Homo sapiens: one gene and its partners. The protein of the gene in region 1 purifies or fractionates together with the protein of each later gene. This does not show direct contact. Each region holds a gene or a part of one and is shown in the gene's direction. Other genes may lie near its edges.

What was found.
Region 2: the proteins of DBR1 (region 1) and SMNDC1 purify together in Homo sapiens (affinity purification with mass spectrometry, with the first as the bait; one large-scale study listed by BioGRID). This does not show direct contact.
Region 3: the proteins of DBR1 (region 1) and TOPBP1 purify together in Homo sapiens (affinity purification with mass spectrometry, with the first as the bait; one large-scale study listed by BioGRID). This does not show direct contact.
Region 4: the proteins of DBR1 (region 1) and HNRNPUL1 purify together in Homo sapiens (affinity purification with mass spectrometry, with the first as the bait; one large-scale study listed by BioGRID). This does not show direct contact.
Region 5: the proteins of DBR1 (region 1) and WDHD1 purify together in Homo sapiens (affinity purification with mass spectrometry, with the first as the bait; one large-scale study listed by BioGRID). This does not show direct contact.
Region 6: the proteins of DBR1 (region 1) and CYLC2 purify together in Homo sapiens (affinity purification with mass spectrometry, with the first as the bait; one large-scale study listed by BioGRID). This does not show direct contact.
Region 7: the proteins of DBR1 (region 1) and SPAG9 purify together in Homo sapiens (affinity purification with mass spectrometry, with the first as the bait; one large-scale study listed by BioGRID). This does not show direct contact.

Annotation. Positions count from the first base shown.
Region 1 is NC_000003.12:138,160,488-138,162,704, reverse strand, and holds the end of DBR1 (lariat debranching enzyme), read left to right. Parts: intron 1-122; coding exon 123-816; 3' UTR 817-1,717; downstream 1,718-2,217. UniProt on the Homo sapiens protein: Cleaves the 2'-5' phosphodiester linkage at the branch point of excised lariat intron RNA and converts them into linear molecules that can be subsequently degraded, thereby facilitating ribonucleotide turnover.
Region 2 is NC_000010.11:110,290,230-110,292,575, reverse strand, and holds the end of SMNDC1 (survival of motor neuron-related-splicing factor 30), read left to right. Parts: 3' UTR 1-1,846; downstream 1,847-2,346. UniProt on the Homo sapiens protein: Involved in spliceosome assembly.
Region 3 is NC_000003.12:133,616,942-133,620,441, reverse strand, and holds part of TOPBP1 (DNA topoisomerase 2-binding protein 1), read left to right. Parts: intron 1-94; coding exon 95-287; intron 288-2,008; coding exon 2,009-2,229; intron 2,230-3,115; coding exon 3,116-3,282; intron 3,283-3,500. UniProt on the Homo sapiens protein: Scaffold protein that acts as a key protein-protein adapter in DNA replication and DNA repair. Composed of multiple BRCT domains, which specifically recognize and bind phosphorylated proteins, bringing proteins together into functional combinations.
Region 4 is NC_000019.10:41,288,372-41,291,871, forward strand, and holds part of HNRNPUL1 (heterogeneous nuclear ribonucleoprotein U-like protein 1), read left to right. Parts: intron 1-3,500.
Region 5 is NC_000014.9:54,961,100-54,964,599, reverse strand, and holds part of WDHD1 (WD repeat and HMG-box DNA-binding protein 1), read left to right. Parts: intron 1-1,427; coding exon 1,428-1,648; intron 1,649-1,746; coding exon 1,747-1,862; intron 1,863-2,048; coding exon 2,049-2,102; intron 2,103-3,500. UniProt on the Homo sapiens protein: Core replisome component that acts as a replication initiation factor. Binds directly to the CMG complex and functions as a hub to recruit additional proteins to the replication fork.
Region 6 is NC_000009.12:102,998,333-103,001,832, forward strand, and holds part of CYLC2 (cylicin-2), read left to right. Parts: intron 1-3,245; coding exon 3,246-3,286; intron 3,287-3,500. UniProt on the Homo sapiens protein: Plays a role in the establishment of normal sperm morphology during spermatogenesis. It is required for acrosome attachment to the nuclear envelope, and proper manchette elongation and disassembly.
Region 7 is NC_000017.11:51,114,369-51,117,868, reverse strand, and holds part of SPAG9 (C-Jun-amino-terminal kinase-interacting protein 4), read left to right. Parts: intron 1-3,500. UniProt on the Homo sapiens protein: The JNK-interacting protein (JIP) group of scaffold proteins selectively mediates JNK signaling by aggregating specific components of the MAPK cascade to form a functional JNK signaling module.

The DNA of each region.
Region 1 (2,217 bases):
AAAATGGAATTTTGATAGATGGCTTATTTTTTATCCTTGCACCTGAAGTCTGTAATTAGATTTCATCATTTATTGTTTAGAGCTGATAAAATGTAAAAAGCTATTGTTTTGTACTTTTATAGGTGGGATTATAGTGCAACAGAAGAAGGTATGAAAGAAGTATTGGAAAAATTGAATCATGATCTCAAGGTTCCATGTAACTTTAGTGTAACAGCTGCTTGTTATGATCCTAGCAAGCCACAGACACAAATGCAGCTGATTCATAGGATCAATCCTCAGACAACTGAATTTTGTGCCCAACTTGGCATCATAGACATCAATGTTAGGCTTCAGAAGTCCAAGGAAGAACATCATGTGTGTGGTGAATATGAAGAACAGGATGATGTGGAGAGTAATGACTCTGGAGAAGACCAGAGTGAATATAATACAGACACATCTGCTCTGTCTTCTATTAATCCAGATGAAATAATGTTAGATGAAGAAGAAGATGAAGATAGTATTGTAAGTGCACATAGTGGCATGAATACACCATCGGTAGAACCTTCTGATCAAGCTTCTGAGTTTTCTGCAAGTTTCTCTGATGTCAGGATCTTGCCAGGCTCTATGATTGTATCTTCTGATGATACGGTGGATTCCACAATTGATAGAGAGGGGAAACCTGGTGGGACTGTGGAGTCAGGGAATGGAGAGGACTTAACCAAGGTGCCATTGAAGAGGCTGAGTGATGAACATGAACCTGAACAAAGAAAGAAAATTAAGAGGAGGAATCAAGCCATTTACGCTGCAGTGGATGATGATGATGACGATGCAGCTTAAGATGATTTACTTGTTTTGTTTTTGTGTTTGTTTTGTTTTTTTGAGATGGAGTTTCACTCTTGTCACCTAGACTGGAGTGCAATGGCGTGATCTCGGCTCACCGCAACCTCCGCCTCCCAGGTTCAAGCAATTCTCCTGCCTCAGCCTCCCAAGTAGGTGGGACTACAGGTGCCCGCCACCACACCCGGCTAATTTTTGCATTTTTAGTAATGACAGGGTTTCACCGTGTTGGCCAGGCTGGTCTCCAACTCCTGACCTCAGGCGATCCACCTGTCTTGGCCTTCTAAAGTGCTGGGATTACAGGCGTGAGCCACTGTGCCTGGCCGACAATTTACTTGTCTTAGTATTATATGTAGATATGTGATTTTTTGAGACTGTATTTTTAGAGCTGAATTTTTGACTAAAGACTTAACTTTATAATAATGAAGATACATTAGAGAATTTTAGTTAGATATTGACTTTATCTTTAGGCTTTTGTATGTTTCAGATGCAAACATATTAAAGTTTCATATATTTACTTGACTGGGTATCTTTTTTTTTGAAGACATACATTATTCACTTCCATTTTTACAATAAACACTTACTTAACATCTACTCTGTGCCAAGCACTCTGCTATAATATGGGACCATAAAGATGAGTAAGACAAGGATTTTTGCCTCCAAGGACTTGTTATCACTGTAAACATTTTGATGTATACAATATGGCTATATTATATTTTGTTTTATAAAATCAAGTCATTGTATATATTATGATGTATGCTTTCTTTTCATTTATTATAAATATTTTTCCTGATCAGCTTTTAATATCTGTCAAATAAAAATTGAAATTGAAGATGGTATATAAGATTTCAGGAAATAAACTACTCTGAATACTAAACATTGGTAAACGTACAATCTTAATTTGCTGAGATTAGTATAACCCTGCTGACTTTTGCATATTGAGTTTTTTTTGTTTTTTTTTTTTGAGATGCAATCTCACTCTGTCGTTCAGGAGTGCAGTGGGGAGATATCGGCTCACTACAAGCTCCGCCTCCTGGGTTCACGCCATTCTCCTGCCTCAGCCTCCTGAGTAGCTGGGACTACAGGCTCCCGCAACCATGCCTGGCTAATTGTTTGTATTTTGTTTAGTAGAGACGGGGTTTCACCGTGTTAGCCAGGATGGTCTCTATCTCCTGACCTCGTGATCTGCCCGCCTCGGCCTCCCAAAGTGCTGGGATTACAGGCGTGAGCCACTGTGCCCGGCCAGCATATTGTGTTTTAACTTTAGCTTTAATTTTCATGTAACTATAGTAACTATGTAGGTCATTTTTGGCATAGTTCACCCCATAGTTTTAATTACTAGCAAGGATCAAGCTGCACAAATAACTGCCCCTCATGCTGCGTGATGGATTGCTAAATTAA
Region 2 (2,346 bases), on another chromosome or scaffold:
TTGTTATTGTAACATCTTAAGAGCTTATCAATAATCAAGAGTAGCCTTGATGGATTGCAAGAGAATCCTTTGAATTAAAAAGCACTGGGAAGAAATTTGGTGTCATTGTGTGACCCCAGAAAATGGTTGTTGAGATTACCTTGGTGGTATTAGAATAGTAATTCACTTGATGTTTGTGTAGGCAGGACTGTTAACAGTCTTGTCCCTCTTTTGACCCTGGGGGGCCTTAGTTTTCCCAGAGGACTTTGCAGTAGGAGAGAGAAAAAGAATAAAAGTGACCTTAAAAAAAAATGTTTTGAAAATAGACCTTTAGAATGAAATCAGCAACCTTTGTGTCAAAGATCTAGATGTGGCCCTTTGGAAAATCCTAGTGTCAGGATGATGTTTGTGTCTCTGAACTAAGAGGCAGGACTCCTGGGGAGACTACCTGTCACAGTGTGATACTGAATTTGAGAAGATGCTCAATGAGAAGCATGATACCCACAGTATTTTACAGTTGAAGGTGGTTAAGCTCTCTATATTCTGAAACAAAATATAAACCTTGACCTTAAAAAGCTTTGTTAGAAAATTTAATGTAGAGTTTTCCCCATTAAGAAAGGAGACTTGAAGCTTTGAAACTGTGACAGACTGAAATGTTAAATATTGAGTTATGGGCCCCTAAGTAGAAATGGTTGCATGTAACTTACCAAAGCTTGACGTTTGACTGTTGTTACCATTTCAAGGAAAGAACAGTCCTAACCTCCCGAAAATAAAATGTTGAGTTTTAGTGGTAATCACAGGTAACAAGTGCTATTTTAATTAACATGTAGGGAGGCCACAGAGCATACTGGAAAACAGCAAGGACTCTAGAGCCAGACTAGTGTTTGTTTATTACCATTTATTACCTGTGTATTCCCATTTATTACCTGTGTATTCCTCTGATTCATTTTTCTCAGCTGTAGAATGGAAAAATCTGTTTCAGTTTTAAGGATTGAATTCAAATGTGTAAATAGCTTAAGAGTATCCGGCATAAGCACTATAGAAGCGTCTGCTATTACTCTGCAGAGTGGCAGTGGTGAATTATCTGATATTTTTTCCTTAACTTGAATAGCAATCCACATTACAATGGATAACAATACCCATTGTTTATGATTTGAGGCATCCAATTATAACTGTATTATTGAAGTGTTATCAAATTACCAAGGCTGTAGGGTATATTTAGTATTCCTAGTTAAAGGTTTGAACTAATTTGTATACTAGGGCATGTTTCTTAATGGGAAGGGGGTGAAGGTTATAATAAAAGTCACCCCTAATGCTTGTTTAAAATTAAAGAGGAATTTGTGGGCCTGGGACCAACCTTAGACTTATCCAGGCCAAGGTATGTTGTTTGACGAACACCGCAGGTGATCCTGATGTGCATCCCCGTCTGAGAACTGTTAACTATAAAAGTTTGACTTTGGAAATGAAGAAAAATTACCTTTTAGCCTAATCATGAAGACTAGGCGTCAAACCAAAACAAGATGCATCAGTTACTGTAGCAACACATTTTTTTTAAAAAATTGCTTGTTGTCACAATGAAGGGTGTGTGTCTGTTTCCAGTATGCAATTCTAATGCCAAATGTCTGCCTTAAAAATAGCAAAGGAGACCATCAGGTTAACATAAAGGAAAACTGTAGTTGTGTGACTCATGTGTCTGTAGATTGTAATTTTATAATTACAATTTTTATAAGATAAAAAACTACCAGTTGTAAATTCAACCAAAAAAAATTTAAAGCTTTGATTTAGCTTTTTGCTTTAACTTGGGTAGTAACTGAAATATAAAGGAAGAAAATCTATTAAAACCAATGAGGTTTTATATTTTTTTAAATCTTGATTCAATAAATATCAGCTGAATTAAGTATCTGTATGGTACTACGAAGCAATCAATTAGTATAAATGGCAATTTACAAGTTCAACAGTAAATGTAAACATTCTTTGTATCTAGGATTTTTGAGTTGCAAGTTAAACTGAATTTTTACTGCAGTAGAGAGGAGGAGCATAGCAGGCAAAATAACAGGTAATACTGTATTTTAAACAAACAGAAAAACCCAAGTAATTGGCGCCCTTTATCCAATCATCTTTTAAAAGGCCTATGTATGTGTATAGTTATGTTCTTAAGAAACATCTTAAGAGGTTCAGAAATCAATTTTATAGATGGAACATTTTAATAATTCGTTTTGGCCTAGCCAAAAGAGTAAAATAAAACAAAATAGTGTTAGATTTCTGTGAGGTGTTTTAATTGCCTTTTCTGCCTTTTAACTTATGTATATAAAGGTGGTTCTTTTGTGGCCTTGATTGGGGTAAAGCAGAACTGAGAATAATAGGGGT
Region 3 (3,500 bases), 4.5 Mb from region 1:
TTTGTGTTCAACCAGGTCTAAACAAAATAGTTAATGTAAGATATGGTAAAAAAGAGGAACTTACCTTGAATGGTGTATTTGTGTTTGTTTCAAGTTCTGACACAGACCTTAGAGATGAGAGAGAACTTTCAGAAGCAGTTACAGGAGATAATGTCTGCAACATCAATAGTGAAACCCCAAGGGCAGAGGACTTCCCTTTCAAGAAGTGGTTGTAACAGCGCATCTTCAACCCCTGACAGCACTCGCTCTGCTCGCAGTGGACGAAGTAGAGTCCTAGAGGCACTGAGGTGTGTACCTGTCACTGATGGCAGAAAGACTAGATGACTTGAGAGAAAGGATTTACGTACCTGCTGCTGACTCAATTCCATGAGCTTGGCCTAATTTAGCTTTTTTTTCTTTTTTTCCCCAATATGCAGTAAAAGCTGAAATTTAAATATCAAGACTAGTGAAGGGGTTATATGCCTAGGCCTTATTTAGCCCAAACAGTAAATATTATATTCCAGTATTATCTATTGCTTTTGGCTCTCTGCTGACTAGATTTTTCGTTCTAGCTTGTCCTTCCATTTCTTGCTCCCAGCAGTTCTAGATTTCTTACTCGGAGGTGGAGCAGACATGGAGATTTGTCTTACAGCAGCACCTGCTTCACAGTGAGGCATGATTGATACTTTTTATTACCTCCGTTGAGAAAGAAATGATTTTAAGATCTAATTTGCCTCATTTGAAATGGATTCAGTAGGCAGTTCTCTCTGCTCTTTAGTATTAGTATTCAATAGTATTTGTATTAAACAATAAGTACATATATATTTTTTCAGAGTCTTTTTCTAATGCAATATGTAAAATCTTAAAGTTATTTTTGTTGGGATTTTGCATGCATTTTGTATTCTCCTTGTAAAATTTATCTTCTAGAAAAGGTGATTACAGTTTCTAGTGTGATGTGACTTAAGCTCAGTTGCATAACTTCATCTTTTTCGTGATAGAAGAAAAAAATCTATAATTGTGTGATAAGAATTATGGGACTTGTATTTTCAGTTGACTAATTGAATTAAGTATAAGATAAACTAGCATTTATCTTACGCTAACTGTATTACATGAGGCAGTTCATTATCTCAGTACTGAGTAAAGTAGCTTTTTAATATGCTTCAGATCATGTTTTATCATTATAGAGAACCTAAATCCTGTACCAAATCAGAGTAAATAAATATAGTGTGAGAATAAAAGGCTATATTCTTTATTTTTGAAGCAAAGGAACTATTTGGGGGTTCCTTTGGTAAATTGTTTTATGGGTTTTGGTGTTTTGTTTTGTTTTTTGTTTTTTGTTTTTTTTTTTTTTGCTTCTCCACAGTGTAAGTTTTATGGTAAATTATTTTTACTAAGAATGAATGAATGAGTGAATATAAAGAAAATTATAGGACTTCTATTTACTGTCACGTGGAATCATTACAATCGCACCATAAAATGCACTTCCCTGTAATTCAGCATATTGCTGTTCCACCGTAGACTCTGGAAAGTGGTTACCAATAGCCAAAAGGCCCTTCTGATAAGGCAGCCTTTACAGCAAGCCTCCCATGTAATCATAGTGCTTATAATTTCAAGTAATTAAAAAATATAACTACTGTTAAGTAAAGTAACCATAGTGTTTGAAACATTACCCTGTTTCCCTAACCTGTATAATTAAGGAAAATCACATTTTTAAATGTACCAATTACTTTAGTATTTTTAAAAAATTTCTTGACACTGTTGAATTTCTCCTTTGAAGTTTTAGTTCTGTAGACATGTAGTCAAAATATGTGTTCCTAGCTAAAACAGATAACTTTTCTGGAAGAAACCTTAAACCTTTTTAAAAAAAAAAAATGTCCCTAGGTTCATTTATTTAATATTTTTAATGCATACTGTGTGCTAGATGGTGGGCATATAAAGGTGAGCCACAACTTTTATGGTCTAACTTATGGATTTAATGAGTTTGGATTTGTTATTGCTGTTTATTTAAACTGTCACTTCTATTCCTTAGGCAGTCTCGTCAGACAGTACCTGATGTCAACACAGAGCCTTCCCAAAATGAACAGATCATTTGGGATGACCCTACAGCAAGGGAGGAGAGAGCAAGGCTTGCCAGCAATTTGCAGTGGCCTAGTTGTCCCACACAATACTCTGAGCTTCAGGTTGACATTCAAAACTTGGAGGATTCTCCTTTTCAAAAGCCTTTACATGATTCAGAAATTGCTAAACAGGGTAACAAGAAAGAAATCTTTGCATTTGTTTGTATTAAGTACATGTTGACCTCTTAAAAATAAACAGATGAGCATGTTGTAGTTCTCTGATCTGAATGTGCAAACAAAAAAAACTTCGTAGATATTTCTGGTTTTGGTTTAAACTTGAGCCAGAAAAATAATTTGTAAATTGAGGTACTTCATCAGTAAATTGAAAAACATTTTCATAAATTTGGAAATTTAGAATTGGGCGTTTTTTTCTAGACATGGTGTCTACCATTGTTCTTTTATTCTAGCTAACCCTTTTTGTGTTTGTGGAGTTAATGCTTGGTTTTTCTTCCTATCATCTTATTTTCATTTAAGTCTTTTGAATTCTGCCTAGCACATACCTACATTTGTTCTTTGGATTGTATGAGTTTCTTTCTGAATTCTCCTATTTTTTTTCTTCCTTGAGCTTTACCTTAAAAACAAAATTTTCCTATCTCTCATCTTTTTTCTTCCTTTTCTTCTTTTTCACATTGCATGATGACCTCCCATTAGATATATAGATTTATCTCTGCTTCTGCTTTTCTCCAAGTGTAGAATTGCTCTCATGTTACAAATTTGGGTTACACTTAACAATGAAAACTTGGTATTTAAGGAAAATGTTGGGAGAAGCCCACAGATAACACACTTGCTCTGTTTAATGCTAATAAATTGCATTTTTTCTTTATTGTTATTATTGTCACATGCAGATGGGATGCATTTATTTATAAGTTCTGGGGATAGGATACTTTTTTGCCTGTACTTTTTACATTCCAGAGTTTGTGCTTGACTTCATCTTGACTAAGACAGATGAGAATATTTCCTAGAATTTGTTTTTAGTCTTATTTGGATCCTGTCACACTGCAGCATTTTATTGTCCTCAGCTGTCTGTGATCCTGGAAACATACGTGTGACTGAAGCTCCCAAACACCCAATCTCTGAAGAACTGGAAACTCCCATAAAAGACAGCCACCTGATCCCTACGCCTCAAGCCCCCAGTATTGCCTTTCCACTCGCCAACCCCCCTGTGGCTCCGCACCCTAGAGAAAAGGTTTGTTGATCCTTAATATGGTGATACAGCTTTTGCATACTGCTGTTAGGCTGTATTAGAAATTTGTTGATGTCAATATCAAGGCTTCATCAAATGTTGAAAACTATTTTTTGCATTGTATCATTATTTGTATATTTCATAACTTAGAAGACTGAGTAAAATACCACTATAAAAGAACTGTGTATCTGATCATTTTTAATGTTAATTTTTTCTAAAGT
Region 4 (3,500 bases), on another chromosome or scaffold:
AGTGCTGGGATTACAGGCATGCGCCAGCATGCCCGGCTAATTTTGTAGTTTTAGTAGAGACAGGGTTTCACCATGTTGGTCAGGCTGGTCTCGAACTCCCGACCTCAGGTGATCTGCCCTCCTTGGCCTCCCAAAGTGCTGAGATTACAAGCGTGAGCCACCATGCCCGGCCTTGGTGGGGATCTTTTTATGGTACTACCAAGAGAGCTTCTTTGTACTTTTATATTGTCTGTAGTCATTGTATGACTGTACCATAATTGATTTAACCTAGCGCCTCCCTTTGGTGGACATGTCGTTACTTTTGCAGCTTTGTATTTAGTGACTGTAATGGCTGTCTAGTATTCTGATGCAGGGGTTTGGGTACCCTGCTTTAATTTAGCCCGTCTTCCTGTTAGTGGCTGTGAAAGTTGTTTCCTGGAACAGATAAATGCGGCTTGTCTTTTTTCCATTTACTGGAGTAACTTGGAGATCTTTTTGTAGCCCCACATATGGATCTCCTGTGCAATTTAGCCACTCCTACTTCCCCATTGGAGCACATTTTCCGTGCTGGCATGAGCATTTTGCACATAGAATTTTGCATTCTTGTGGGAATGTAGTTGTATTCCTTCTTGAAAGTTAGATTCTAAGTCAAAGGTATATTTTTAAATTTTCATAGCTACCACCAAGACTACACTCCAAACAGGTTGCAGTAATTTAACTTGTCACTGTGTGACAGTGTTTGCCAAAGTCTGTTCTTTCAGAGTATGAGGTTCTTTTGGTATGTGGCAGTATGGAACTCTAGGCCTTGACTCTTGCTTCAACCAGAACATCTCTGCATCCAGTCTTAAGATTCCTTATATAGTTTTCTTTGTTCAGAAGATACCACAACTTTAAAAAGGCTCAGGGTGAGGAGTTGGTGGGGGTGTAAAAATCATTGGTCTCCTGGAACAAGAGGGGAGGACATTGGTGTCAAATATCAAGTCCTCAATTTGCAAAACAAAAAGGTAAAACAGCCTTCCAAGTGGAGAACAGAATAACCCATTTCAGCAAACCATAAAGAGTATGATACTTAGAGCCTAGGGACAACAGAAAGAGGTGTGAGACACCAGGCTATAAAAATGGCAGGCTCTGAATTATGCCAGGCTTCAGGAGTTTGGGTCTTTAGGCCTGGGACTGACACAGGAGTGTTTCAGCAGGAACAACAACACAACTCCACTTGCCTTTTGGACAGATGGCTCTGTTGGTGGTAGATGGGTTGGTTGAGGGCGCCGGTTTCTGTGCATTATGGGAAGTTCCTATAGTGAAGCTGGTGGCCATAAGGAAGGCTAACTAACACCAACAGTCATACCTGCTCTCCATGGTCTTTTTTTTTTTTTTTTTTTTGAGAAGGAGTCTTGCTGTTGCCCGGCTGGAGTGCTGTGACATGATCTCGGCTCACTGCAACCTCCAACTCCCTAGTTCAAGTGATTCTCCTGCCTCAGCCTCCTGAGTAGCTGGGATTACAGGCACTCGCCACCATGACCAGCTAATTTTTGTATGTTTAGTAGAGACGGAGTTTCACCATGTTGGCCAAGATGGTCTTGATCTCTTGACCTCATGATCTGCCCACCTCGGCCTCCCAAAATGCTGGGATTACAGGCGTGAACCACCACATCCAGCCGCTCTCCATGGTCTTGACGTGGGTGCATGCTTAGAGATGAACAGGCATGAGGGCCTCTGACACAGAGCTGTGCCCTGTGAGCACTGAGGAGGTTAATGAGGAAGCTCCTCAAGGGAGGGTGCTTCTGTCGCTTCTTGAAGGGCAATTCCCAAGGTGGTCACCTGAATAGAGAAAGAAATTATACTTTCATATCAGAAAGCGAACCGTGTATTTTGCTTCAGTCTGCTATCTAATCTCAAGTTTTGAGCCTTTTCTTCTCTGAGATGGGCATTTAGAAAAATATTTAACAAACGTTTTAAAAATATAAATTTTAAAAAGGCAAAAAAACACTAAGAAAAAAAAGAGCCTCTCGTATCCTGCAGCCAAAGCAATGTTTCCAAAACACAGTTTTGAGCAGGCTGCTCCTCTATTCAAAATAAGTCAGACACTCTGCTCTGCCACCAGCATCAAGTTCAAATTCCTGCGGTAAATTAGAGTCCCTCACATGCCGAGGTAGGCCGTGTCCCCTCCCACCACTTCAGTCCCAGCCCCTTATTTCTAGCACAGTGCCTGACATTTTGCAGTGATAGCTCACATTCCTTGTGTGCTCACTGTGTATTAAATGTACTAGCCCATTTAACAGTTAGAATAAACATAGGCTGTATAAAATATTATTACCCCGCCCCCCTTTTTTTGATAAAGAAACAAGATGAAATAACTTAACCAAGGCCACAAGTTAGTAAATGGTAGAACTGAAGCCATCCACCTTCTAAAATGGGATCATAGGCTAGGCGTAGTGGCTCACACCTGTAATCCCAGCACTTTGGGAGGCTGAGGCGGGTGGATCACCTGAGGTCAGGAGTTCGAGACCAGCCTGACCAACATGGAGAAACCCCGTCTACTAAAAATACAAAATTAGCCGGGCGTGGTGGCACATGCCTGTAATCCCAGCTAATTGAGGCAGGAGAATCGCTTGAACCCAGGAGGCGGAGGTTGTGGTGGGCCGAGATTGCGCCATTGCACTCCAGCCTGGGCAACAAGAGTGAAATTCCGTCTCAACAAAAAGAGGGGGGATCTTAATTACTAACTTTAGCAATTCAATAAGTAGTTGTTACAGAATAAATGAATGTGGTCCCTGCATGGCTCTTCAGCTGTTCCTGAATTACTTCCCCCTCATCTTTTATGCCTCAGCCAATCTGACCTTGTGTTCTGTCACTGCTAGGCTTATATACAAGCAACTGAGAAACCTCAGAAACTTGCTTCTAGGTAGGTCATCTTACTGAATTATGATAGAGTGTCCTTGTCTCATTCCCCACTGGTCGCTAAGCTCTGTCGGTCCCAGATTATGCAGACATGTGTATCAGAAAGAGTACGAACTCAGGGAACATGTTGAACAAGCTGAACTCAGTTCGAAAAGGCCCTGCGGTGGCTTTCCTTCATCTGTTATATTCATAGACTGCCCTTTCTGGGTTTCTTTTGTTTGTTTTTGTAGAGATGGGGTCTCTTTCTGTTACCCAGGCTGTACTTGAACTCCTGGCCTCAAGCATCCTCCTGCCTTGGCTGCTCAAAGTGATGGGATTATAGGCGTGAGCCACTGCACCTGTCTCCTCATCAGTTTTCAGGACAGGACTGGACCACCTTTTCCTTCGTCTTCATCTCAGTCTAGGCACAAGACTCAAATACTTGGAGCTTCTTAAAATTACCTGCTTTAGGACAGGTGCAGTGGCTCAAGCCTATAATTCCAACAGTTTGGCAGGCCAAGGTGGGAAGATCACTTGAGTCCAGGATTTCAAGACCAGCCTGGGCAACATAACAAGACCCTGTCTCTACAAAAAAATTTAAAAATTAGCCAGGTGTGGAACATGCCTGTAGTCCCAGCTAC
Region 5 (3,500 bases), on another chromosome or scaffold:
TGGCGCGATCTCTGCTCACTGCAAGCTCCGCCTCCCAGGTTCACGCCATTCTCCTGCCTCAGCCTCCCGAGTAGCTGGGACTACAGTTGTCTGCCACCACACCAGCTAATTTTTTGTATTTTTAATAGAGACTGTGTTTCACCGTGTTAGCCAGTATGGTCTCGATCTCCTGACCTTGTGATCCACCTGTCTCAGTCTCCCAAAGTGCTAGGATTACAGGTGTGAGCCACTGCGCCCGGCTTCCTTTTTATTTCTAAATGCCCCCTGAGGCAGTGTACCATCCCGATTAAGAAGTACTGATTATAGATAAATGATACTAAAAATCTTGAAAAGGGCATCCAGGTGAATATCTAAAGCTTTTGTGCTGATGGATCAGACATGGAATATCTAAGTAAGAAAATAGTTCTAATACACTATGAATTAGGAGACCCTTAGTAATCTTCAAAATACCAACTTTTCTCAGTTTGTTGTTTTTCTTTTTTGTATTTTTTAGAGAAAGGGTCTCACTCTGTTACCCAGGCTAGAGTACAGTGGCAAGATTGTAACTCACTGCAGCCTCAACCTCCTGGGCTCTAGTGAACCTCCTGTCTCAGGCTCCTGAGTAGATAAGACTGCAGGTGCATGCCACCACGCCCAGCTAATTTATTTTTTGTAGTTATAGGGTCTCACTGTGTTGCCCAGGTTAGTCTCAAACTCCTGGCCTCTAGCAGTCCCTCTGCCTTGGCCTTCCAAAGTGCTAGGATTACAGGTGTGAGCCAGCACACCTGGCCCCCTTGATTTTTTTTTTTTTTTTTTTTTTTGAGACAGAGTCTCGCTTTCTCGCCCAGGCTGGAGTGCAGTGGTGCAATCTTGGCTCACTGCAACCTCCACCTCCCGGGTTCAAGCGATTCTCCTGCCTCAGCTTCCCGAGTAGCTGGGATTACAGGCGCACGCCACCACGCCTGGCTAATTGTGTTTTTAGTAGAGACGGGGTTTTGCCATATTGGCCAGGCTGATCTCGAACTCCTCACCTCATGATCCACCCATCTGGGCCTCCCAAAGCACTGGTATTACAGGCGTGAGCCACCGTGCCCAGCCTCCCCCTTGAATTTTTTAAACAAATTTCTTAATTTTCTTGCAATTAGTAGATTAAAGTGGTATGTAATATTTCATCAAATCTAAGCCACTGTTTATTGCATAGTGCACCATTACTTTATTCATTTAAGCCATGGAGACATAAAAATGCTGCCAAACTGACCCACCATTAATTGTAATTAATTGTAATTCCAATTTCAGAGATGTTAAAACTTGTAAAAATGTGCATCTTAGAATTAGGGAGATAGAGTAGCTAGAAAACTATTGTCTCAGTTTTACTAGTAGTGTCAGTATCTTTAAAAAGTTTTACTTGATGTTATTTGATCTCCCCCCCCCCCCCCTTTTTGGATTAGCTTTCTTGTAAACTGGAGCGAGAATTCCGTTGTGTGGAACTTGCTGATCTAATGACTCAAAATGCTGTGAATTTAGCCATTAAATATGCTTCTCGCTCTCGGAAATTAATACTGGCTCAAAAACTAAGTGAACTGGCTGTAGAGAAGGCAGCCGAATTGACAGCAACCCAGGTGGAAGAGGAAGAAGAAGAAGAAGATTTCAGAAAAAAGCTGAATGCTGGGTAAGAAATAATTTAGTTGTTTGAATTTTCCTTTACTGTCTTGAATGTTAAGTTGGTCTTTGCATAGCTCTTTATTGAATAATATTATTTTCTCTTAGTTACAGCAATACTGCTACAGAGTGGAGCCAACCAAGGTTCAGAAATCAAGTTGAAGAAGATGCTGAGGACAGTGGAGAAGCTGATGATGAAGAAAAACCAGAAATACATAAGCCTGGTGAGATACATTTTCAAGCCCATAAATCATGAGAACTATCATGGATGTGGCTTTTCCCATTTTGCTTAACTGAGGGAAATTGAATACTCATACTTTTTTTCAGACCTCTTTGCTATCTGGTTGTTGTATATTGAGGATGACTATATTTTCCCCATTTACATTATATTGCTTTATTTTAATCTGTAGGACAGAACTCGTTTTCCAAAAGTACAAATTCCTCTGATGTTTCAGCTAAGTCAGGTGAGAAATATTTATAAATTTGTAATATCAAGGAAATTTTGCAAGTCATCTGCAAAGTGACACATCTACGCAAATACACCTTAACTCTTAAGGCCACTTTTGGTGTGTGTGTGTTTATGTTTTTGTTTTTTTAATCTCAGATGTTGTTTGTGAAGCTATGGTCATTTAACAGATGTTTATAAAATGCCTATTGAGTGTCAGGCATTTTACTTAATGGTGGATACAGAAGTCAAACAGACATGTGTGGTTGATCTCTGTTTTAATGCTATTTTAGCCCAGCTGAGAAGACAGATGTTGAAGACAGATCTGGGTATCACTGAGGAAGCATGCAGGATACTGGAGAAACAGTTAAAAGGAATTGAAGGCTGGGCGCAGTGGCTCACGCCTGTAATCCCAGCACTTTGGGAGGCCGGAGTGGGCGGATAACGAGGTCAGGAGTTCTAGACTAGCCTGGCCAACACGGTGAAACCCCATCTCTACTAAAAATACAAAAATTAGCTGAGGGTGGTGGTATGTGCCTGTAATCCCAGCTACTCGGGAGGCTGAAGCAGGAGAATCACTTGAACTCAGGAGGTGGAGGTAGCAGTGAGCCGAGATCGTGCCATTGCACTCCAGCCTGGGCAATGGAGTGAGACTCCATCTCAAAAAAAAAAAAAAGGAGTTGAAAATGGTTGCGTACAGGGAGTGGGCCTGGGGGATAAGAGAAGGTTGAAGTAAGGCACTGCTGGCCCTTTTTTGGTGGGGAGCATAAACCTTATAGTACCATTTGACTTTTTAAACTGTGGACATATGTTACTTTGATTTAAAAAAATTAACTTAAAAAACATGTAGAATATGAAAAGAGCGTATGACACATAGCTGTCATCTAGCCAGTGGTGGAGGATGGGTAGGGACTTCAAGGCAGGCCTCATGGAGTGTTTACAGCAGAGACCTGAAGGATGAATAACAGTCAGCAAGGCAAAGGTGCATGGGAACAGGAGCAGAAGAGAAGCATTTGGGCTTAAGGAACAGTATGTGTGAACTGAAGGCTGCAAAAGGGTGGTGTGAAAAGCTCAGAGAGCAAAGAGAAAGTGGTGCTGAAGGGTTTCGGAGTGATGGGCAGGAGCCAAGTCATGCAGATCTGTGTAGGCCATATTAAGGATTTTGGTCTTTTTTTTATTTTATTTTATTTTTTTTAATAGAGATGGGGTGTCACTCTGTTGTCCAGGCTGGTCTCAAACTCAAGCAATTTCCTCACCTCCACATCCCAAAGTTGTTGGACCTGCAGGTGTGAGCCACCACACCCGGTCAGGATTTTGCTCTTTATTCTAAGGTCACTGAGAGACTGTTGTAGGTTTTAAGCAGAGGTATAGCATGGCACACTGTGCTGAAGAAGAACAGATAATAGACTACTGGCCA
Region 6 (3,500 bases), on another chromosome or scaffold:
TACATTCATATAAATATATCTCAAAATAAAAATAAGGGATATACTAAGTTTATTTTCAATAAGACAGTTTGTAAGTTTCTTTAATAAGAATGTCAAAAATTGAATGCAAATGCACCCTGACCTAGATAATTACTTGACTGTACCAGAGAGGAAAGGAAAGAGATGCTCTCACCAGCAAAGCCAGACTTAAAGAGTGGGAAAGTGCTATCAAATCCAAAAGATCAAATTGCTTTAATTGCTTATCACACACATTTGCATAGTCAGTAGGGGCAAGGGTATTTGGTTTATTGCTGTTTGGGTTCCTATAAATGATTCTTACTAAAAATGCAAGAGGTTAAAATGTATTGAACTGTCACTAACTCTAATCTCATAAACACTAAGAAATACATAGAAAACTTTGATCACACAAAAAAGATACATTATGACAGATTCCAGTCAATCCAACTTGCTTTTCTCCAACCAATGACTGTTCAGTTACCCTATAGAGTCTTCCTTATTTTTGAAGTGAATACAATAAAATTATATTGTGTATGTGCTAGTATTTCTGGACTTTTTCTTTCAATATAATATTCCTTTGTATTCATTAAAGTTTCTATATTGCACATATAAGTAATTTATTCCTTTCGATTGCTAAGAAGTATTCCATTACATTTACATAGCACACTTAGTTTATCCATTCCTTTGTTGATGGACACTTGAGTTGCTTTTAGTTTGAGGTTATTGTGAATAAAATTGCTATGAACATTTTTGTCTAAGTCTTTCTGTGGACTTTTGTTTTCTTCCTTTTCTTTATTTCCTAGAGGAAAAGTTTTAATTCACTTATGCAGCTTTTATATGTATTTTAATAACTTGTTTCTGTATAATTTGCTTTTGTGTTATTTCAAGTTTTAATTAATTTTCCTAAATTTTTATCTTCTAATTTTGCTGGTATATAGAAATATACTTCATTTAAACTATTTATCATATAATCATTAAACTAGTATAATTCATTAAACTCTGTATCATATAAACTTATTACATTTGATTGGCAGCTTTAACAGTTATTATTATAGATGTCACTGGATATCATATTTACCCAACTGTATCCTCTACAAATAAAGACAATTTTACTTCTTCCTTTTCAATCTTAGTGCTTTTATTGCTTTATGAAACAAAATAGGATCTGGATTTAAATGCTGAATAGATACAGTAGGTTTATCTTTGCCTTGTTTCTGATTTTTAAGGAAAGACAGTCAATATTCCTCCAATAAGTTTAATTTTAAAAACAGGCATTATCTAGATGTATTCTATCAATCTGTGGGCTATGTTCTCTATTGCTGGTTTTCTCTGACTTTTTAATTACGAATGCATATTACTTTCTTTCAAAAATTATTCTGCATATACTGAAATGATCAGATGATTTTTCTTATTTATTTTGTCAATTGGAATGATTGCATTGGTTGATTTTAGGTCAAACCAACCTCATATTCTGGAAAGTAAACCAGATGATCATGATGTATTAGCAATTTTATATGTTTGTCAGTATGATTTTTTAAATTTTAAGAAATTATGTGTCTATAATAATGTGGGATATTCATCTGTAATATGCATTTTTAGAATTGACCTCAAAAGGATTTGGGTTATTTATATTAGCCTTGAAAATGAGTTGAAACATACTTACTCCTCCTCTACTTCTTTTCTTATATTGTTTTCCTAGTTTCAATGGAGAGATGTAAAACATTGATTTTAAACATTTTTTATAATATAAAATATTAAAACTGTAAGTTATTCTCTATGAACTTTTAAGCAGTATTCTATCATTTTCATAATTATCTTATTGTTCAGTTGCTTCTTTTTAAATAGGTTTTCATTGTGATCTCTTTTGGACCACTGGTTCTTTAAAAGGAGCTGTTTAATTTTCAAATATTTATATATTGTCTAGATAATTTTATTATTGATTTCAAATTCAATTGCTGGGTGATTAAATAATATGTCCTAGCAATTATAGAAGAAATTAACAGATCATTCTATTTTGAAAATCTATTTTGAAAATATCAAGTTTAATAGTGTTTCATGAACTTAAAATCTTTCCTCTTCGAGAGCATTTGGAATAATGCAGTTCATAATCATTGTTGGGTATCAACATTTCTTCTGTAGTATATAAATGTACTTTGACTGGATCTGAATTTAGAGATTCAGATATGATGGGGCAAGTAATTTTGGTGCATGTACTCAGTTTAAGAAAATGATAGGCTGGATAACTTATTGGTGAAAACATATTAAATATTATTCAGCTAATACAAATTTTTATAGCACGAAAAAATGTGCCACGTTTTATGCTGCTAGCTTCATTCTTTAGTCAAGGTATCAAGATACTGCTTTTCTATGCTTAAACCTTAAGTTTTACACGCTGTCAAATAAACACCACGTGTGTGTTTGTGTATGAGCACAAAAGCCTCAAACTCACTCATGACCAACGATGGCTCTATATCCAAAATATAATGAAACAATGTAAAATAATATTTCTCTAATAGATCTTAGGATTGGTCTCCATCACCAATAAATAAAAATTAGATCGTAAAACACTCCTTCGTGGGAACAAACATGTTAAGATAGTAATAAAACAAATGGGAACCTACAAATGGAAAACAATTTGCAATATAGTTTCTTTTTCAGATTTTCTTTAAAAAGTAATGAAATTCCTTACGAATTTTTGTGGTCCACACTGACATATACACATGCACACACAAATTCACAGGTGCACATATAGGCCATTTAATAATTTGGATTTGGTGGAGTTTTTTGAGACTATTTTGAGGATATGCTTTTACATAAGCGTAGAGTTTACAAAGTGATACCTTGTTTCAAATTCAATTAAGAGAGAATTTGGAGCATGAACTGGGAAAAATAATTCAACTGTGTTTTTGTAATTTTTTTAAATGTATATTTTCAGATGTGCAATTTGCTTATACACACACAATACATATAAACAAATTGCACATCTGAAAATATACACACATATATGTGATACATGTATGTATATATAGTTTGTTTGATCGACCATTATTTAGTACTGTTGTAATTTGAAAACACATTTGCTCATCTCTATTATCCTGGAGATGAAGTAATCTTATATAACAAAAGATATCTGAGATTGTGAAATATTTCTCTAGTTGTTGGTTGCAGGTACTGGAGTAAAATAATGACAGTTTAAAACAGTGATTTTTATATAAATTAACTAAAACCTTTCTTTTTTGTTTTAATAGCCAAAGAGTAAACTTTGGGCCATATGATAATTACATTCCAGGTAAGAAAGCATTCAATATTTATTACAAAACAGGTGTGCTTAATTTTATGGTAAGTATTATCCTCTATTCAAAGTGATAAAGCAAACATTGCCATGGAATAAAATTGATAATTAACTATTTCCCAAGGAACCTTTCTTACAGGCCCAGTGAACACCTTTAATATATGTTTTGCTTTGTTTTGAATCCAAGGAAGTTTAAGTAAACATGCTCAGT
Region 7 (3,500 bases), on another chromosome or scaffold:
AGCCACCACACCCGGCCATCAGTTTTCACATAAGATCATAAATTGTGTGTTGCTCAGTATCCAGAAATTGTCTCCCTTTGGCCAATATGTAGAGTGAATTCTGTGTTTAGTTTTCTGTGAGTGCTTTGTTTGCGCCTTTTTTTTTTTTTTTTTTTTTTTTGAGACGGAGTCTTGCTCTGTCACCCAGGCTGGAGTGCAGTGGCACAATCTTGACTCACTGCAGCCTCCGCCTCCCGGGTTCAAGCGATTCTGCCTCAGCCTCTTGAGTAGCTGGGATTACAAGCACGTGCCACCACGCCTGGCTAATTTTTTTGTATTTTTGGTAGAGACGGGGTTTCACCATTTTAGCCAGGATAGTCTCAATCTCCTGACCTCGTGATCTGCCCGCCTCAGCCTCCCAAAGTGCTGGGATTACAGGCATGAGCCACCGTGCCGGCCTGTTTGTGTCTTTAATGCGGAGACCAAGAGTCTTTTATACCAAAGTAAGTGCCTCAGGGTATTTACAGCAAAAGTGATTTGAAAGCATGGAAATTATCCATCACCAGAGAGAGTAAAGTAAATTCTGAGCACCTCTGTGGAAACTTAGGTGGGTATGTAGATAGAATGTTTTAGGAATGTGTGAGGTGCTATGATCTCTTGCTTGCAGGAATTCTCAGCAAGGCATCAAAAATTTAATCTTTATATTGATAGGACATATTTTGAATACCTTCTGACTTTTTCCTTTGCTTTTATTTGAATTTCTAGTGTGGAGCTAGTCTGCTGTTTTAGGGATTCTTTAAAAACAACCTAAAGAAGGGCTAATTTTAGATAGATTTGGACCGGTTTCAGATGCTAATCAAGAAATCTGTCATCTTATCGCCCATCACTCTCTCCTTTGGGCTGCCTGTGACACACCTCTCCATTCTTTAACCAAGACCCGTCTGATGCCTTTGCCCATGCTCTAGAATGCTCTCCTTAGAATTTTACATAGCTAGCTCCTCACTTTCTACTCTGTTTCAATTTCACTTTTTCAGCCAGAACATCCTGTTGACTCTATCCAGAATAAGCCCTGTGAACCTATTGAATAATTTATTTTAAAATCAGTGACTTTTAAATTTAAATTCTTTTTGGAGACAGAGTCTCAATCGCCTAGGCTGGGGTGTAGTGGCACAGTCACAGTTCACTGCAGCCTCAATCTCTTGGGCTCAAGTGATCCTCTTGCCTCAGCCTCCTGAGTAGCTAGGACCACAGACATGCGTTACCACACTGGGCTAATTAAATTTTTTACAGAGACAAGGTCTCACTGTGTTGCCCAGTCTGGTCTGGAACTCCTGGGCTCAAGTGATCCTCCTGCCTTGTGGATCCTGCCAAAGTGTTGGGACTTACAGGGGTGAGCCACTGTGCCCCAGCCCAGTGATTTTTTAAAATAAAAATCTGGATACAAAATGATCTGGAGAGAGAGGTTATAACTGGGTATGTTAGGGTTTTTCTGCAACTTCTGATTCTTTTAAAACAGGCATGATTTGCTGTAACTTTTAAAAAAGGGCCAGGTGTGGTGGCTCACATCTATAGTCCCAGCACTTTGGGAGGCCGAGGCAGATGGATCACTTGAGGTCAGGAGTGTGGGACCAGCCTCGCCAACATGATGAAACCCTGTCTGTACTAAAAATACAAAAATTATCTGGGTGTGGTGGTGGGTGCCTGTAATCCCAGCTACTGGGGAGGCTGATGCAGAAGAATTGCTTGAACCCGGGAGATGGAGGTTGCAGTGAGCTGGGATCGTGCCTCTGTACTCCAGCCTGGGCAGTAGAGTGAGACTACCTCTCAAAAAAGAAAAAAGAAAAAAAAAAGAAACTTCTGAAAAGTAGACATACGAGTTTAAAGAACCTTTAGGAATTTAGTTCTTAGTGATTCTGTGGGTCTTTTATGTTATCACTGTTATTCTCAAAGTGAGAGCTCATTTAGCATCATTCAGTAGAGGGAGATTACACATAAAAACGAAGAGGCATTGTCTTCCTTCCTTTTCTTTTTCTTTTCTTTTCTTTTCTTTTCTTTTTTTTTGAGATGGAGTTTCTCTTGTTGCCCAGGCTAGAGTGCAATGGTGCCATCTCGGCTCACTGCAACCTTCGCCTCCTGGGTTCAAACAGTTCTCCTGCCTCAGCCTCTCAAGTAGCTGGGATTACAGGCATGCGCCACCACGCCTGGCTAATTTTGTATTTTTAGTGGAGTTGGGGTTTCTGCATGTTGGTCAGGCTGGTCTTGAACTCCTGACCTCAGGTGATCCGCCCGCCTTGGCCTCCTAAAGTGCTGGGATTGCCACTGTGAACCACCGCGCCTGGCTCCTTCCCTCCTTTTTGAGATAGACTCATACATGCAGAGAATGGACTGAAGAGAGAATATCTTTACTGGGAATGGATTATGTGATTTTGTGTCTGCTTTTTTGTGGCCTTTTGCTTTAAAAAAAAAAAAAAAAGGATGAGTTCAAGCCTGGGCAACGTAGTGAGACCCCTCTTCCCCAAAAACCATAAAAAAAATTAGTTGGGTGTGATGGTGTGAGCCTGTAGTCCTAGCTACTCAGGAGGCTAAGGCAGGAGGATCACTTAAGCCCAGGAGTTTGAGACTGCAGTGAGTTATCATGGCCACGGCACTCCAGCCTTGACAACAGGGCAAGACCCTGTTTCTTACCAAAAAACAAAACAATAGGATGACTGAATGCAGAGGTGAGAGACACTACTGAGAATTTTCTAACTTGTTCCCATGGAATCAGCACTTAAAGCAGTAACAAAATGATTTTTGTTTAAATGGAGACTTTTGACACTTCTTGTCTTTGGAAGTGTATGAACATGGGACCCGTAAGACTCATGGGCAGGAAAATAGGTATTGACATTCATTGTTCTTGTTTTAGTGTTCTCATTCATTCATAATTTTTTTTTTTTTTGAGACAGAGTCTCACTCTGTCACCCAGGCTGGAGTGCAGTGGCACTATCCCAGCTCATTGCAACCTCTGCCTCCCAGGTTCAAGCAATTCTCCTGCCTCAGCTGCCTGAGTAGCTGGGATTACAGGTGTGCACCACTACACCCGGCTAATTTTTGTATTTTCAGTAGAGACAGGGTTTCACCATGTTGGCCAGGGTGGTGTAAAACTCCTGACCTCAAGTGATTCATCTGCCTCAACCTCCCAAAGTGCTGGGATTACAGGCGTGAGCCACCACACTTGGCCCACACTTGATATTTTATTTTTTAATTTTATTTATTTTTGAGACTGAGTTTCACGCTCTGTTGCCCAGGCTGGGGTGCAGAGGCACGATCTTGGCTTACTGCAACCTCTGCCTTCTGGATTCAAGCAGTTCTTCTGTCTCAGCCTTCTGAGTAGCTGGGATTATAGGCATGAGCCACCATGCCCAGCTACTTTTTGTATTTTTAGTAGAGATGGGGTTTCACCATGTTAGCCAGGCTGGTCTTGAACTCCTGACCTTGTTATCTGCCTACCTTGGCCTGCCAAAGTGTTGGGATTACAGGCA